2 linked regions of the Homo sapiens genome follow. The protein of the gene in region 2 binds, or shares a complex with, the protein of the main gene of each other region. Each region holds a gene or a part of one and is shown on either strand. Other genes may lie near its edges.

Region 1 (7,241 bases), on a different chromosome or scaffold from region 2:
TCGTTCAGGCAATAGAGGGAATTTATTGCTAATGTGACTGAAGATTGAAGCAAGACTGGATCTGATGTCTCATGCAATGCCACTGGGACTTGGTTTCATGTCTCCATCTCTCAGTTCTGTTTCCCCCTCTGTCTTGGTCTCATTCTCAGGCAGCATCTCTGCTTGCAGTGGGAAGCTGGCTGCCAGCAGTGCCACGATTACATCCTACTCTCAGCAAACAGAGATTCACTGAACTGAATAGTTGTGACCAAAGTTCCAGAATTAAATCTCATTGGGTCACATGCCTGTTGCTGAAATGGTGTGGCAACAGGGCTCTCTATAATGCTGTGATTGGCCAAGCCTGGGTCACGTGTCCATTCCCGCAACTAGAGATAGTGTCATCTCTAGAGCCACATGGATTGAGAGTTGGGGCAGGGGCTGCTCTAGGAGAAATGGAAGTGCTGTTACCAGAAGGAAGAATGGACACCGGAATGGTAGCCACCGGGAAGGGAGCCGGAGTCCCACAGGCTGTCCCTCCTGTTAACATGAGGCAGCTATAGCAGTGGGGCAGTAGCGGGGAGGCACTAGGAGGCTGGGGGCTGGGCCAGCAGTGAGGGACATGGTAGATTGGGTCAAGTAATAGTAACACCATTGCCACTGCTGTTTGGGGCTGTGAAAAGGTCTAGGAGGGTTCTTCTGACAAAAAACCTGACAACATAAAAGACATAGTGCTAAGTAAGTCCTTGTCCTCAGAATAAAGGCAGGAAAAGCTGAACAGTTGGGTGACACCCCATCAAGATATTGCTGCTACTGGAAAGGGCAGACGTTGTCTGGGGACATTCATGGGATTGTGAGACAGGATGAAGGAAAGGGCACTGCCAGCTGGACTTGTGAAGGGAAGAAACAACCATTTTCCCCTCAAGTTTAAAAAATGAAGCTTATGCATTTTTACAATAGTAATAAATTCACAATAGCCCAAAACAACCCAAATTCCAACAGTAGGAGTCTGGGTAAATATTGCAATGCCCGGAGAGTAAAATGCAGCCTTTACAAATGATGCTTTATTTGACATGGAAAGATGTTCACAATGTAGTTTTTTTGTTTTGTTTTGTTTTTGTATTTTTTGTAGAGATGGGTGGGGGCAGGTCTTGCTATGTTGCCCAGACTGGTCTTGAACTCCTGGGCTCAAGTGATCCACCCGCCTCGGCCTCCCAAAGTGTTAGGATTATAGGTGTGAGCCACATTAGAGGTAGGACTACAGCTGAAGCTTATCTTCCTGTTTTTTTTTTTTAGGTGGGGTTTTGTTCTTGTTGCCCAGGCTAGAGTGCAATGGCGCAATCTCGGCTCACTGCAACCTCTGCCTCCCAGGTTCCAGCGATTCTCCTGTCTCAGCCTCCCGAGTAGCTGCGAATACAAGTGCATGCCACACCCAGCTAATTTTTGTATTTTTAGTAGAGAAAGGGTTTCACCATGTTGGTCAGGCTAGTCTTGAACTCCTGACCTCAAGTGATCCGCCCACCTCGGCCTCCCGGAGTGCTGGAATTACAGGCGTGAGCCACCGCACCTGGCTTTTTTTTTTTTTTTTTTTTGAGACAGAGTTTCACTTTTTTGTCGCCTAGGCTGGAGTGCAATGGCATGATCTCGGGGTCACTGCAACCTCCGCCTCCTGGATTCAAATGATTCTCCTGCCTCAGCCTCCCAAGTAGCTGGGATTACAGGCACCTGCCACCACACCGAGCAAATTTTTGTGTGTGTGTTTTTTAGTACAGATGGGGTTTTACCATGTTGGTCAGGCTGGTCTTCAACTCCTGACCTCAGGTGATCCACCAGCCTCAGCCTCACAAAGTGCTGGGATTACAGATGTGAGCCACTGTGCCTGGCCTGAAGCTTATCTTCTAATTTCTCTATAATAAACCTGCTTGATAGTGTGGTAGTGTCATAGTCAACTAGAGCCAGCCTCCTGAGTGCAAGTCTCAGCTCTGCCACTGCTTGGCATGGCGGCTATGGACAAGTCTCTTAACACCTCTGAGCTTCAGTTCATGTAACCATAAAGTGGGGGTAACAGTTCTTAACTCATAGGGTGGCTGTGAGTATTAAATTAGCTACTACTACCTGCAAAGCTATTAGCCATACCTGCAGTAAACACTAAAAAATGTAGTTCTTATTTTTGGGTAATTAAAAAATCCAAAAGAGGGCTGGGTGCGGTGGCTTACACCTGTAATCGCAGCCCTTTGGGAGGCCAAGGCAGGTGGATCACAAAGTCATGAGTTCAAGACCAGCTTGGCCAATATGGTGAAACCCCGTCTCTACTAAAAATACAAAAATTAGCTGGGCATGGTGGTGGGCACCTGTAGTCTCAGCCACTTGGGAGGCTGAGGCAGGAGAATTGCTTGAACCCGGGAGGCGGAGATTGCAGTGAGCCGAGATCGAACCACTGCATTCCAGCCTGGGTGACAGAGCGAGACTCCGTCTCAAAAAAAAAAAAAAAATCCAAAAGAAAATATGACTATAAGTCAATATACTGGAATTAAGTGTCTTTGTTGGCCAAATAGCTGTGGCAGTAGACAATAAATGAGCTGTTATTAAGATAAGCAATTTTTTTTTATTTTTTTTGAGACAGAGTCTCGCTCTGTTGCCCAGGCTGGAGTGCAGTGGCGCGATCTTGGCTCACTGCAAGCTCCGCCTCCCGGGTTCACGCCATTCTCCTGCCTCAGCCTCTCGAGTAGCTATGACTACAGGAGCTCGCCACCACGCCCGGCTAATTTTTTTGTATTTTTAGTAGAGGCGGGGTTTCACCGTGTTAGCCAGGATGGTCTCGATCTCCTGACCTCGTGATCCGCCCGCCTTGGCCTCCCAAAGTGCTGCGATTACAGGCATGAGCCACCGTGCCCGGCCTAGGATAAGCAATTTAAGCGATTTTTCTCTAACATGGGGAAACATCTAAGAATAAGAGAGGGAAGTTCTCTATTTTCCTGAAGCTTTCATACTAGCAGAGAAGACAAATAATAGATACTGCGAAGATAGGATGATTGAAGAATGCAGTGATATAAATTTGGGGGAAGAGGAGGGAGGCAGAGCAAAGAAATTCAAGGCCTTGGCCAGACGTAATGTCTCACACCTTGTAATCCCAGCAGTTTGGGAGGCTGAGGCAGGCTGATAGCTTGTGTCCAGGAGTTCGAGACCAGCCTGGGCAATCCAGCAAAACCCTGTGTCTACAAAAAAATACAAAAATTAGCCAGGCATGGTGGCATGCGCCTGTGGTCCCAGCTACTTGGGAGGCTGAGGTGGGAGAATCGCCGGGACGTCGAGATTGCAGTGAGCTGAGATCGTGCCACTGCACTCCTGCCTGGGTGACAGAGCAAGAACGTCTCAAAGAAAAAACAACAACAACAACAACAACAACAACAACAAAAACACAAGGCCTGTGGTTGGGGGAAGGTTGTAACTCTAAAAAAGACCCATGTGGCTACAGCGAGGGACACTGGGTGTAGGTAGAGATAAGAAGAGTGATACTCAGTTCTCACATCACGGCGGACTGAATACAGGCCCGGGGAGTGAGAGACCATCCACCCCTGTGATCTGGGGCAAGTCACCAGCCCTTTCAGAGAAGCTTCCGTCTTCTCTGCAAAATGGGACAATACCTTGCTTCACAAGCTTGCAAGGATCAAAAGAACTGGTAGTGGGCCGGGCGCGGTGGTTCACGCCCGTAATCCCAGCACTTTGGGAGGTCGAGGCAGGTGGATCACTTACTTGAGGTCACGGGTTCGAGACCAGCCTGGGCAAAATGGTGAAACCCCGTGTCTGCTAAAAATACAAACATTAGCCTGGCGTGGTGGCAGGTGCCAGTGATCCCAGCTACTCGGGAGGCAGAGGCAGGAGGATCGCTTGAACCCAAGGGGTGGAGGTTGCAGTGAGCTGAGATCGCGCGCTGCACTCCAGTCTGGGCAACAGATCAAGACTGTCTCAGAAAAAACAAACAAAAAAGAACTGGTAGAGGAAGCGCTTTGCATACTATCGTTCACAGTATTATTACAAATACAACCATTAGGAAAACATGCAGAGCATAGCCCCGAACTCACGAGCTGCGCCGGCCCGCGCGTGCGCGACAGGCGGGCGGAGCCAGGGCAGTCCAGGCACCGCCTTGACCCGCCCCAGCCTCTTCCCCTTCCCTGTTCCTCCCACTTCCGCGGGCACCCAACTGTGCGTCTCCTGCGCGCTGACGTCAGGTGCGTGCCCCTGTCCGGCAGCCGAGGAGACCCCGCGCAGTGCTGCCAACGCCCCGGTGGAGAAGCTGAGGTGAGTGCGGGGCCCGAGGTTCCCCGCGGGAGCTGCCACCCTACCTTCCCATCCCCGCCGTCTCCGTCCTCTCCCAGTCCTCGGGGACACCCCGTCTGCGGGATCGTGGGGGGCCCGGGAGCACGGGTTGTGGGGGAGTGCCCGGCTCGCGCTGCGTCCTCCGGGCGGGCGCGGGTCCGCGTTCTGTGGGGGAGCCGGGGCGGGGGTCGCGGCCGGGGAGGCAGGGGGCGCCCGTCTGAGGAGGGGCGCGCGGCCGGGGCTCGGGGCGCGAGCGGGACCGGGCTGTCACCGGCAGCGGCGGAAGGAAGGGGGTCACACCCATCCTGGGCGCCCGGGCTCCCCTCCCCCCAGCCCGGCCCGGCGGGCTCCTAAGGGCGGCCGGGGGCCTCAGAGCGACTCGCGGGCGCTTGGGCCGGGCCGGGCGCCGGTCTTCCGTGCTGGCAGGCTGCGTTCCGTGCCCTGCGCTCCGGCCTGGACTTCCTGCTTCGCCGGGCGCCGCCGCGGACATTTTGCGGCGGGGGTGGGGGGGCGGGGGAGGGGAGTGGCGTTGCGGCCGCGGCGGGGCGGTGGCAGGAGGGCAGCTCGCTGGCTGCTCGCGGCGGTGCCTGTCCGAGCTCCCCTCCGCGCCGGCCGCGTCCTCTGGGCGGGGTGGCCCCGAGCCACGGCCTCCAGGCTGCTCTTCCTTTCGGAGGTCGAGTTCCTAGCATTTCCATCCGCTCCTCCAGCCCGCTCCCTGCCGGTTTAGCTGAAGCTTCCCTTTCGGGGAGTTACCTAACTACCTCCCGAAGCCGTCGTTCTGCTGCTTGGTTAATTCCTCTTATCGGGGGGGAATTTTCTTTGTTCGTTTGTTTTTCCTCCCCTTTAAGTCCAAGATAAATGTAGTGTGGAAGATTACGTCATCGCGGTATAAGGAGTGAGACTTAACTCCTACAAGTCAGGGACTTAAATTCAAACAGCATTTTGCAGCCTTAGTCGGTCACCCAGTGGCTTATCCTGCCTGCTTCCCAACACGTCGTATTCACAGATGATGTTTTGAAAGCTTGTTACTTGTGTTCATGACCGCCTTCAGTGCACCTAAAAGCTAGGAAGGTTTAAAATCCCAGGATTAGTTTGTGTCAGGGAATAAAGTGTAAGACAACACCGTCCACGGCCCCTTGCGTGGCATTAACTTTAAATAGAGGTCCCTTTGACTATACTAGAATGAGGTGGGTTTATTTGTGGGAACACTTTTCGGTCCAAAATGACTTTCCCAGACTGTTTATTCTCCTTTATGACTTACTGCATGCTGGGAATCTCCCTAGGTTGATTCAAGTGCACTTTTTGTGGTGAAGTTGTGTTGAAAAGAGGATCAGTTTATGCCTGATCTATGCTAGACATTTTAGTTTTGTTATTAAAAACGAGACTTCGATCTTTAAGCAAAAAACTTAATATTTTCATAATTTTGAGATCACAATTTTTATTTTTTTTGAGACAGGGTCTCAAAGACGTTACTAAATATAATGGATATTGCACTCCCAGGCTGCAGTGCAGTGGCGCGATCTTGGCCCACCGCAGCCTCCGCCTCCCGGGGTCAAGTGAGCCTCCCACCTCAGCCTCCCGAGTAGCTGGTACTGCAGGCATGTACCACCATGCCCCGCTAATTTTTGTATTTTTTGTACAGACAGGGTTTCGCCATGTTGCCCAGGCTGGTCTCGGACTCCTGGGGTCAAGCAGAGATCACAATTTTTGTTCCCTAGGGTGTTTACATTCTAAATTTTGTATCCTTCCGCGACTGCAATAGTATCACACAAAAATGTTGACTCTGTAAAGCAAATGAGATCCAATTGTGTAATGCATTGTTGTAAAGATAATTCATGTCGAAACAAGTGCTTTCCCACTGTTTCTCATTTCTATAGAGAACAGATTGGTAAACACTTAAAAGGAGTGTAGGTTCAAGGCAGCTTTCTGTAGTGTGTAGGCATTACAGACCATTGGATAGGTGTGGAACTTGAATCTTCTGAAATACATTTGTTAGCCTTGATGTAATATTTTAGGCATATAAAATTGGAACACATCTGCCTTATTTTCTTGAGCTTTCTATTTTTAATAATTTTAAATAATATCAATTTGTATCTTTCCTTTTAGAAAGTAACAGTAGTTTGAATTTATGTATATATATATATATATATATATATATATATTTTTTTTTTTTTTTTTTTTTTTTTTTTTTTTTTTTTTTTTTTTTTTTTTGAGAAGGAGTCTCGCTCTGTCTCCCAGGCTGGAGTGCAGTGGCGCAATCTCAGCTCACTGCAAGCTCCGCCTCCCAGGTTCACACCATTCTCCTGCCTCAGCCTCCCGAACAGCTGGGACTACAGGCGCCCGCCACCACGCCCGGCTAATTTTTTGTATTTTTAGTAGAGACGGGGTTTCACGGTGTTAGCCAGGATAGTCTTGATCTCCTGACCTCGTGATCCGCCCGCCTCGTCCCCGCAAAGTGCTGAGATTACAGGCGTGAGCCACCGTGCCCGGCCTGAATTTATAGTTTTTATACTGAGATGGAGATAAGAGTTTGGTAATCAACTAAGTATTGAATGAGCTCGTTTTCAGTAATTTCTTCAAGACCAGAAAGGTATCACATCCTCTGTTTATACTCTTAAAATGTTTTCATGTTACAACCAATACCTGTCCGTATTAAACTTAATTTTTTGGGAATCTAAGGCAGATGTTATAGCCTAGAGTAGTATAGGGAGTTAAAAAAAAAATTGGTGATTTTTTTTTTTTTTTTGGAGACAGGGTCTTACTCTGTCGCCCAGGCTAGAGTGCAGTGGTGTGATCACAGCTCACTGCAGCCTCGGCCTCCCAGGCTCAACTGATCCTTCCACCTCAGCCTCTGCAGTAGCTGGGACTACGGTGCATGCAACCAGACCCGGCTAATTTTGGTATCTTTTGTAGAGATCGGGTTTCCTCATGTTGTCCAGGCTGATCTG
Region 2 (8,138 bases):
TTTCTGTAGGTCTGGAATCTGGCCAGAAGGCTGCAGCCGCATGCAGCCTGGGGGTAGGCACCTCTGCCCTCAGCCCTAATGGGCAGCAACTCCCCCTCCTGCCACAAGCTCCCCACATGAGGGAGGGCAGTTTTTAGTTCAACCTATTCAGTCTAACCCCAGGGAAGAGGCTGCTCCATGTCCAGCTGCATTCCTGGAGCCCCAAAACTGACATATATGGTCAGAGAATCAGCAGGGCAGATAAGGAGAGCAGACAAGCCCTGGGGGTGGGCAGGAAGAAGAGGGGGAGAGCTGCCATCCCAGAGCCACAGACTCTGGGCTCTGAGGCCACTTGACAACCTCCTGCACACATCACATCACAGCCAAGGGCCCTGGATGGTGAGCCCTCTCCCTGTGCCTAGCAACAGCCACCCTATCACCAGGGCAACCACACGGATTGAGTGGTAACGCTGTTTCATGCTCCCAAGCCAAAGCCAACCAGCGAAAACAGCCCAAAAAAACCCTCTTCTTCCTCTCCCTGTCCCCTGTCCTCATCCACTACCCCTGGTTACCACCAAAATATAATCCCTTCCCAAGAACACAGAGAAGAATGATCCCTCACGGTCAGGAATGCATTTCTCTGAGTGATGCCAAAGCCCAGCTCCCTCACTCCCCTTCAGCCTTCAACCCTTCAACCCTTCAACCCTTCAATATCTACATGTGCTTCCTGCCATCCAGCCAGGAGGCTGTGGGAGCTGCTCCCCATAGCGACCTCCAGCTGGGTAATAAAGACAGAATCCAGCTCAAAGCAACCCCCTCCAGGCCAGAGCCTTCTCTCTACCCTTTCTATTCAGCCTGTCACTGCCCAGGGACCAGGGGCTCCTTCAGCCCCACCTACAGCTATCCCAGAGACATCTTTCTGCACAAAGTAGGTGCTGATGCCATGAAATGATGAGGTAGTATGGAGAGCTGGATTATCATCCTGCCTAAGCCAGTGAGCTGCAAAGATGCTGAGCAAGTCCTTTTCCTACTTGGGCCTAAATTTCCTCCTCTGTAGAGGCAATGGCGCCTCCCAGAAATATAATTCTCCAGTGTTCAGAAATACTTTGTGCTGCAGTGAACAACAGGATTAGAAGGAGCAGCCGGGGCCGGGCACGGTGGCTCATGCCTGTAATCCTAGCACTTTGGGAGCCCAAGGTGGGTGGGTCACCAGAGGTCAGGAGTTCAAGACCAGCCTTGCCAACATGGTGAAACCCCATCTCTACTAAAAGTACAAAAAAAAAAAATAGCCAGGCATGGTGGTGGGTGCCTGTAATCCCAGCTACTCAGGTGGCTGAGGCAGGAGAATCACTTGAACCCAGGGGGTGGAGGTTGCAGTGAGCTGAGATCAAGCTACTTCACTCCAGCCTGGGCAAAAGAGCAAAACTCTGTTTCAAAAAAAAAAAAAAAAGGAGCAGCTGGGAGCTGGGGTGGATGTGAAGGAGGGAGAAGGACACCATCTAAAAGGGAGCTGAACTTGAACTTCACCTCTTTTCCAGTGACTGCTCTTCTATGCTGTCAGTTCTTCCAGACATGACCTCCCTCAACGCCCCCACATAACCTCCTTTCCCAGCATAACTAAGCCCAGTGGTTCCCATCTCCCAGTCAGACTGGCCCCTCCCACTACCCCCAACCCACAGTTTAACTTCTGAGCCTGGAAGTTAAACTCCCATTCAGTGGGAGGGTGAGGAAGCTAGCACAGGGAAATTCTAACATCAAGTAGTAGAAATGAAGTATCCTGCCTGTTTAAGACACCAGCCACCCACAAGCCTGCTCTACTCTGTGCAAAATACACCCAACTCTGAGATTAATTTTTCCATTCTCAGCAGGTAAACCTTTACAAAAATCTTAAGGATCACCTTAGGCAATCACTTTTAGGAAGTTGTAGACTTTTCTGAAATTGGTAACATGTGTGGACTTTTTCCCTAAGAAAACTTAGGAGATGTATGCAATTTTAAGAGGTTCATACACCTTCTGAGAATCACTGTTTAAGAACTTCTGGTCTATTCAGAATGACACCTGATATATAGTAGATGCTATCATTTGTTGAATGAATGAACCAATTAATTCATCTCCTAAGTAAAGAAGGGAACCCACACTTGTTGAGGGCCTATATAGGACCATGAACTGGGGACACAAACTCAACCTCACGATAGCACTGATGAGGCATGTTCTACTAAGCTCATTTTACAGTGAGGAAAGAGAGGACCAGCCGGGCACGGTGGTTCACGGCTGTAATCCCAGCACTTTGGGAGGCCGAGGCGGGCGGATCACAAGGTCAGGATTTGGAGACCAACCTGGCCAAGATGGTGAAACCCCATCTCTACTAAAAATACAAAAATTAGCCGGGTGTGGTGGCGCGCGCCTGTACTCCCAGCTACCTGGGAGGCTGAGGCAGAAGAATCGCTTGAACCCGGGAGGCGGAGGTTGCAGTGAGCCGAGATCACGCCACTGCACTCCAGCCTGGGCGACAGAGTGAGACTCCGTCTAAAAAAAAAAAAAGAAAAGAAATCATATTCTCAACGTTGGAATCGGCCTCCCAGTTGCAAATCCCACCACAATACAACAGCAATTACAACTCTCAACTACAATTATGTTTGCATAGAGCTTCACGGTTTACAAAGCCCAGGTTACGTTTTGCAATTATCCTGTTTCACAGATTAAGAAGTTGAACTGAGGCCGGGCGCAGTGGCTCACGTCTATAATCCCAGCACTTTGGGAGGCGGGGGCGGGAGGATCACGAGGTCAGGAGTTCGAGACCAGCCTGGCCAACATGGTGAAACCCTGTCTCTACTAAAAATACAAAAATTAGCCGGGCGTGGTGGCGGACGCCTGTAATCCCAGCTACTCAGGAGGCTGAGGCAGGAGAATCGCTTGAATCCGGGAGGCGGAGGTTGCAGTGAACCGAGACTCCAGCCTGGGCAATAAGAGTGAAACTCCGTCTTAAAAAAATAAATAAGTTGAACTGAAAGCGTGGCCTAATAAGTGGCAAGGAGGAACACTTCCCCCAAATTTCTTCTTCTTAGTGCTTTGCCAGATCAGATCTGGGAGATTTCCCCCTCCCGCCGGCTTGCTGGATGACAGCGATCCGGCCTGGACTCTGCCCTGGGGAAGGCAGGAAGAAGGTAGTGAAAATGATTAAGTCCTCTTATTGCAGGCGCCAAAATGGGGCAGAAACCCTGCAGGAAGGCCAGGCCTCTGAGCCCAGTTCCACCCCCGTTCCCCTCCTCGGATCTGCTCCGGTCCTCCCCATCCGGACCCCATCCCTTCGGACGACCTGGCCAGCTCCTTTCCTTTCCCCATCCCCACCCGGGGAGACCCCGCGCCCAGCAGCTCACCGCGCTCGGGCACTGCTCCCTCTGCCACGCCTGTCAAGGCTCGGCAAACATCCGGCTCCGCGGTGGAACGGGAACCGCCCCCTCCCGCTCTCTTCTATCCCCAACCATTTCCGCCACACCTCCAACCCACTTCCGGCCCCAAACATGGCCTTTCCAGGAGCCCCGCCCACTTCCTGCACATGCCCGCCTAAGTTCCTGCCTCGGGGAGGTAACAGCATAACTGTCCGACTCGTCGCTCCCAAAGAGATGGCTGGAACAATTAGTTCCGCTTTCCCAGCTAGTCGAATCACTGGTGCACCTCCGGAATCCGAGGTTCGCATTGCTCTCGGACAGAGTTCTGCCTCCCCAGTACTCCCAAACTCCCAGTCCTGTGCACCAATGAGGTCCAGCTCTGAGGCTTCTTTCCTGAGAAAAAAATTTGGAAGTCCGTGACTGTTTCCTGGAGGAGCTGAGAAGAGGAAGCTCACTTCCGGCGTAGGGAGGCTTTCTGACCCGGAATGGAGGAGGCGGAGGAGCTGCTCTTGGAGGGGAAGAAGGCGCTGCAACTCGGTGAGTGACCTGCGATGTCCGCGACCCTCAACCTTGGCCCAGGTGGATCTGACGCTCTGTGGTCAGCTTTCTCCTCAGTCTTCTCTCCTCCGGATCCCAGGATCCTCCAGTGCCCTCAGAGTCGCTGGGGGCTTCTGAAGAGCCCTTGAGCCTCCTCAAAACTTTCAGGGCCCTCCTTAGAGCCCTCACCTGTCCCTCGGGCTCCGCAGGCCCACCTGGACCTGCGGTTTCCTCCCACACTTTTCCCCACCTCCCACCTTCTTGGGTGGCTCCCTCACTGTCTTCCCTTCTCTCTGCAGCCCGCGAGCCGCGCCTGGGCCTGGACTTAGGATGGAACCCTTCCGGAGAAGGCTGTACGCAGGGCCTCAAAGACGTCCCACCCGAGCCGACCCGAGACATCCTCGCTTTAAAGAGCCTTCCCCGGGGCTTGGCCCTTGGCCCCTCACTCGCCAAGGAACAGCGCTTGGGGGTCTGGTGTGTCGGGGACCCCCTGCAGCCCGGCCTGCTGTGGGGGCCGCTGGAAGAGGAGTCTGCCTCCAAGGAGAAGGGCGAGGGAGTAAAGCCACGGCAGGAGGAGGTATTGAAGGATAGAGCGACTTCCCTCCGCCCTTGAAAATGTAGGGGAGGTTTGGACATTGCTAGACAGCTTTTCAATTTGAAGAAAGAGAGTATTTCAAGAGATAGGAGATAGTCTTGTCCCTTCTCTTCAGGACTGTCTCCTCTCAGCAGCAGTAGTTAAAGAATCGAGGTTTGAAAAGTTGTTGAAAGCTGGAATCATACAGTGTCAGCAGTGAGTGAGGAAGGTCAAGAGCTAAGGTTTTTGGAATTAAGAAAGCATGGGATCAAATTCCAGCTTTGTCACCTAGCTGGTTAAATTACGTGCCGCATTTAATTCATCTGTGAAACAAAGCAGTGGCTCTCTTGGGATTATATGGAGGAGCTGATGAAATAGTGAAGATAAAAGGTTTCACTGCACAATAAGTACCATTTTATTTTATTTATTTTTCTTTTTTCTTAGACAGTCTTGCTTTGTCGCCCAGGCTGGAGTGCAGTGGCACGATCTCGCCTTATTGCAACCTCCACTTCCCAGGTTCAAGTGATTCTCATGCCTCAGCCTCCCGAGTAGCTGGGATTACAGATGTGCACCACCACACCCAGCTAATTTTTGTATTTTTAGTAGAGACAGGGTTTCACCATGTTGGTGAGGCTGGTCTCAAACTCCTGGCCTCAAGTAATCCGCCTGCCTGGGCCTCCCAAAGTGCTGAGATTACAGGTGTGAGCCCCCGCGCCTGGCCCAATAAATACCATTTTAAAAAGCTGGTGTTCCTTATTACTTTTTCTGTTTAGTACTCACTGGAAGACAGTAATGTGTTCAATTTAGTAATTCTCCATACCCTTGGGAGGGAGGTGAGGAGACAGACTTTTTGGTCCTTACTGAATGAAGAATCAGACAGCACTGTCCTGTTAGAGGAGAACCAGAGGCTTCTAACCTTCCAGGAGTTTCATCTTAAATTTGTCCCAGGAAAGTTTCATCTAGTTTCTTTTTTTATTCCTACCCGACCCCTCGAACACATTTGAGAAGGACTTTTGTTGGTTTATTTCAGAACCTGTCATTAGGCCCATGGGGAGACGTGTGTGCCTGTGAGCAGAGTTCTGGCTGGACTAGGTAAGTCAGAGGAGAGTGTGTCGTTCCTTTGAGGTTTTCTGTTGTGGTTTGGGATGGAACCCGGTGCTGACTGTCATTTCCTATTCAGTGCTCTTTTGCAGTGAATGTTCCAAAGGCACGGCGTCCTTTAGGACCCAGACTGCTTGGGGACTGGGGCTTTCGGGGAAGACCACTTGAATAGTGAGCATCTCCTAGCTGGCTGTTACTTTGCTTTGCAGCTTGGTACAACGGGGCAGGCTGGAGAGTGAGGGAAATGTGGCCCCAGTGCGGATCAGCGAGAGGCTTCATCTGCAAGTGTACCAGCTGGTGCTGCCAGGCTCTGAACTGCTGCTGTGGCCCCAGCCTTCCTCTGAGGGCCCAAGTCTCACCCAGCCTGGGCTGGACAAAGAGGCAGCTGTAGCAGTGGTGACAGAAGTGGAGTCTGCTGTACAGCAGGAAGTGGCCTCCCCTGGGGAGGATGCAGCAGAACCTTGCATAGGTATGTGTCAAATAAATGCTGGTTTCCCAGCAATTTCCCCACCAAAACAACCTGTTGATAAGACAAAGCAGAGTTTATGGCTCATTGCGGTAAGGAAGGACACTATAGAGTCTTAGTAGCTTTTCAAAATCTGTTTTAAGGTGGATCTTTCAACATGGGATAGGAGGGTGGGGCTTGATTAGTATTGGGTAAGGATTATGACTGAATAGCTTAGGGTTGGTACATACAGCAAGGCTAGAATTTTCAGGCAAGGGACAGTCTCAGACTATGAATTGTCATTCATTGCTTTCTGTTGAAGAGCGACGGGTCTGTTCTTTGGAATAACAATATAGATATTTGCAACTTTTACCTTCCTAAGAGCTTCCTGGAATAGTAAGAAAGAGAGTAAGCTTTGTATGTACACGGTTTCCAGCCTCCCATGTTTCTTCTCTCTGGCGTGGGGGTTCTTTTATATTACAGATGAGCTAAGGTGGGAAGGGGTTTTTTTGTTTTGTTTTGTTTTGTTGTTGTTGTTGTTGTTGTTGTTGTTTTTTTTTTTTTTTGAGATGGAGTCTCACTCTGTCGCCCAGGCTGGAGTGCAATGGCGTGGTCTCAGCTCGCTGCAACCTCTGCCTCCCAGGTTCAGGTGATTCTCCTGCCTCAGCCTCAGCTAATTTTTTTGCATTTTTAGTAGAGATGGGGTTTCACCATGTCAGCCAGGCTGGTCTCGAACTCCTGGCCTCAAGTGATCTGCCTGTCTCTGCCTCCCAAGATGCTAGGCTTAACAGGTGTGAGCCACCGTGCCCGGCTGGAAGGGGTCTTGAATCACATCCTAAATATGTGTCTCCAGGGGCGAACAAGGGGATTCTCCATCTGGGATGGCCTTATTCTAGTGATTATCCAGATGGCTGGGACCCCATGGCTCTCAGGAGTGCTTCTCCAAAAGGCGCTTAAGGCTGGACAGGAAGATAAATGGAGTGTGCACCCCATGCTCCAGGGAAGAGATTGGTATCATTGCTCCCTCTAAGGCTCAGGGGCTGGGTGGGAGAAAACATCTGATCCTGTAATTCCCTGGTAACACCATCTGCATTGAAGCTCCCTAAACCCAGTACCCCATCCTTGCCTTGCAGATCCTGGTTCCCAGTCACCCTCTGGCATCCAGGCAGAGAATATGGTGAGCCCTGGACTTAAGTTCCCAACCCAGGACCGAATTTCCAAGGATAGCCAGCCACTTGGCCCATTGCTTCAGGATGGCGACGTGGATGAGGAATGCCCGGCCCAGGCACAGATGCCACCTGAACTTCAGAGCAATTCGGCTACCCAGCAGGACCCAGATGGCAGTGGAGCCAGTTTCTCATCTTCTGCCAGGGGCACCCAGCCGCATGGCTACCTGGCCAAGAAGTTACACAGCCCCAGTGATCAGTGCCCACCCAGAGCAAAGACCCCAGAGCCTGGAGCCCAGCAGTCTGGCTTCCCTACACTCTCGCGGAGCCCTCCTGGCCCAGCAGGAAGCTCCCCAAAGCAGGGGCGACGGTACCGGTGTGGAGAGTGTGGCAAGGCATTCCTACAGCTGTGCCACCTAAAGAAGCACGCATTTGTGCACACGGGCCACAAGCCCTTTCTTTGCACTGAGTGTGGCAAGAGCTATAGCTCAGAGGAGAGCTTCAAAGCCCATATGCTGGGCCACCGTGGGGTGCGGCCCTTCCCCTGTCCACAATGCGACAAGGCCTATGGCACCCAGCGAGACCTCAAAGAGCACCAGGTGGTACATTCAGGTGCCCGGCCCTTTGCTTGTGACCAGTGTGGCAAGGCCTTTGCCCGCCGGCCCTCCCTGCGGCTGCATCGCAAGACCCACCAGGTGCCAGCTGCCCCTGCCCCTTGCCCATGCCCTGTGTGTGGGCGGCCCCTGGCCAACCAGGGCTCCCTGCGGAACCATATGAGGCTCCATACAGGAGAAAAGCCTTTCCTGTGCCCGCACTGTGGCCGGGCGTTTCGTCAGCGGGGCAACCTGCGTGGGCATTTGCGGCTCCACACCGGGGAGCGTCCTTACCGCTGCCCACACTGTGCCGATGCCTTCCCCCAGCTGCCTGAACTGCGGCGCCATCTCATC

Evidence for each region.
Region 1: the proteins of ARHGAP1 (region 2) and CDC42 are in contact, whole or in part, in a crystal structure (PDB 1GRN), measured with the Homo sapiens proteins. Residues at the interface, in NP_004299.1 of Homo sapiens: Glu278, Gly279, Phe281, Arg282, Arg283, Ser284, Ala285, Asn286, Thr287, Gln288, Asn309, Glu310, Val316, Lys319, Arg323, Asn385, Lys386, Met387, Asn391, Val394, Val395, Pro398, Asn399, Trp402, Ala403, Lys404, Ala406, Ala407, Thr409, Leu410; in NP_001034891.1 of Homo sapiens: Asp11, Gly12, Ala13, Tyr32, Val33, Pro34, Val36, Phe37, Gly60, Gln61, Glu62, Asp63, Tyr64, Arg66, Leu67, Leu70, Ser88, Glu91, Asn92, Glu95, Lys96, Asn132.

The regions. Positions count from the first base shown.
Region 1 is NC_000001.11:22,048,468-22,055,708, forward strand, and holds the start of CDC42 (cell division control protein 42 homolog isoform 1 precursor), read left to right. Parts: upstream 1-4,241; 5' UTR 4,242-4,275; intron 4,276-7,241. UniProt on the Homo sapiens protein: Plasma membrane-associated small GTPase which cycles between an active GTP-bound and an inactive GDP-bound state. In active state binds to a variety of effector proteins to regulate cellular responses. Involved in epithelial cell polarization processes.
Region 2 is NC_000011.10:46,697,195-46,705,332, forward strand, and holds the start of ARHGAP1 (rho GTPase-activating protein 1), read right to left. Parts: upstream 3,426-8,138; 5' UTR 3,357-3,425; intron 1-3,356. Other genes in the region: ZNF408 (zinc finger protein 408), read left to right, coding at 3,854-3,905, 4,205-4,482, 5,510-5,571, 5,790-6,049, 7,159-8,138. UniProt on the Homo sapiens protein: GTPase activator for the Rho, Rac and Cdc42 proteins, converting them to the putatively inactive GDP-bound state. Cdc42 seems to be the preferred substrate.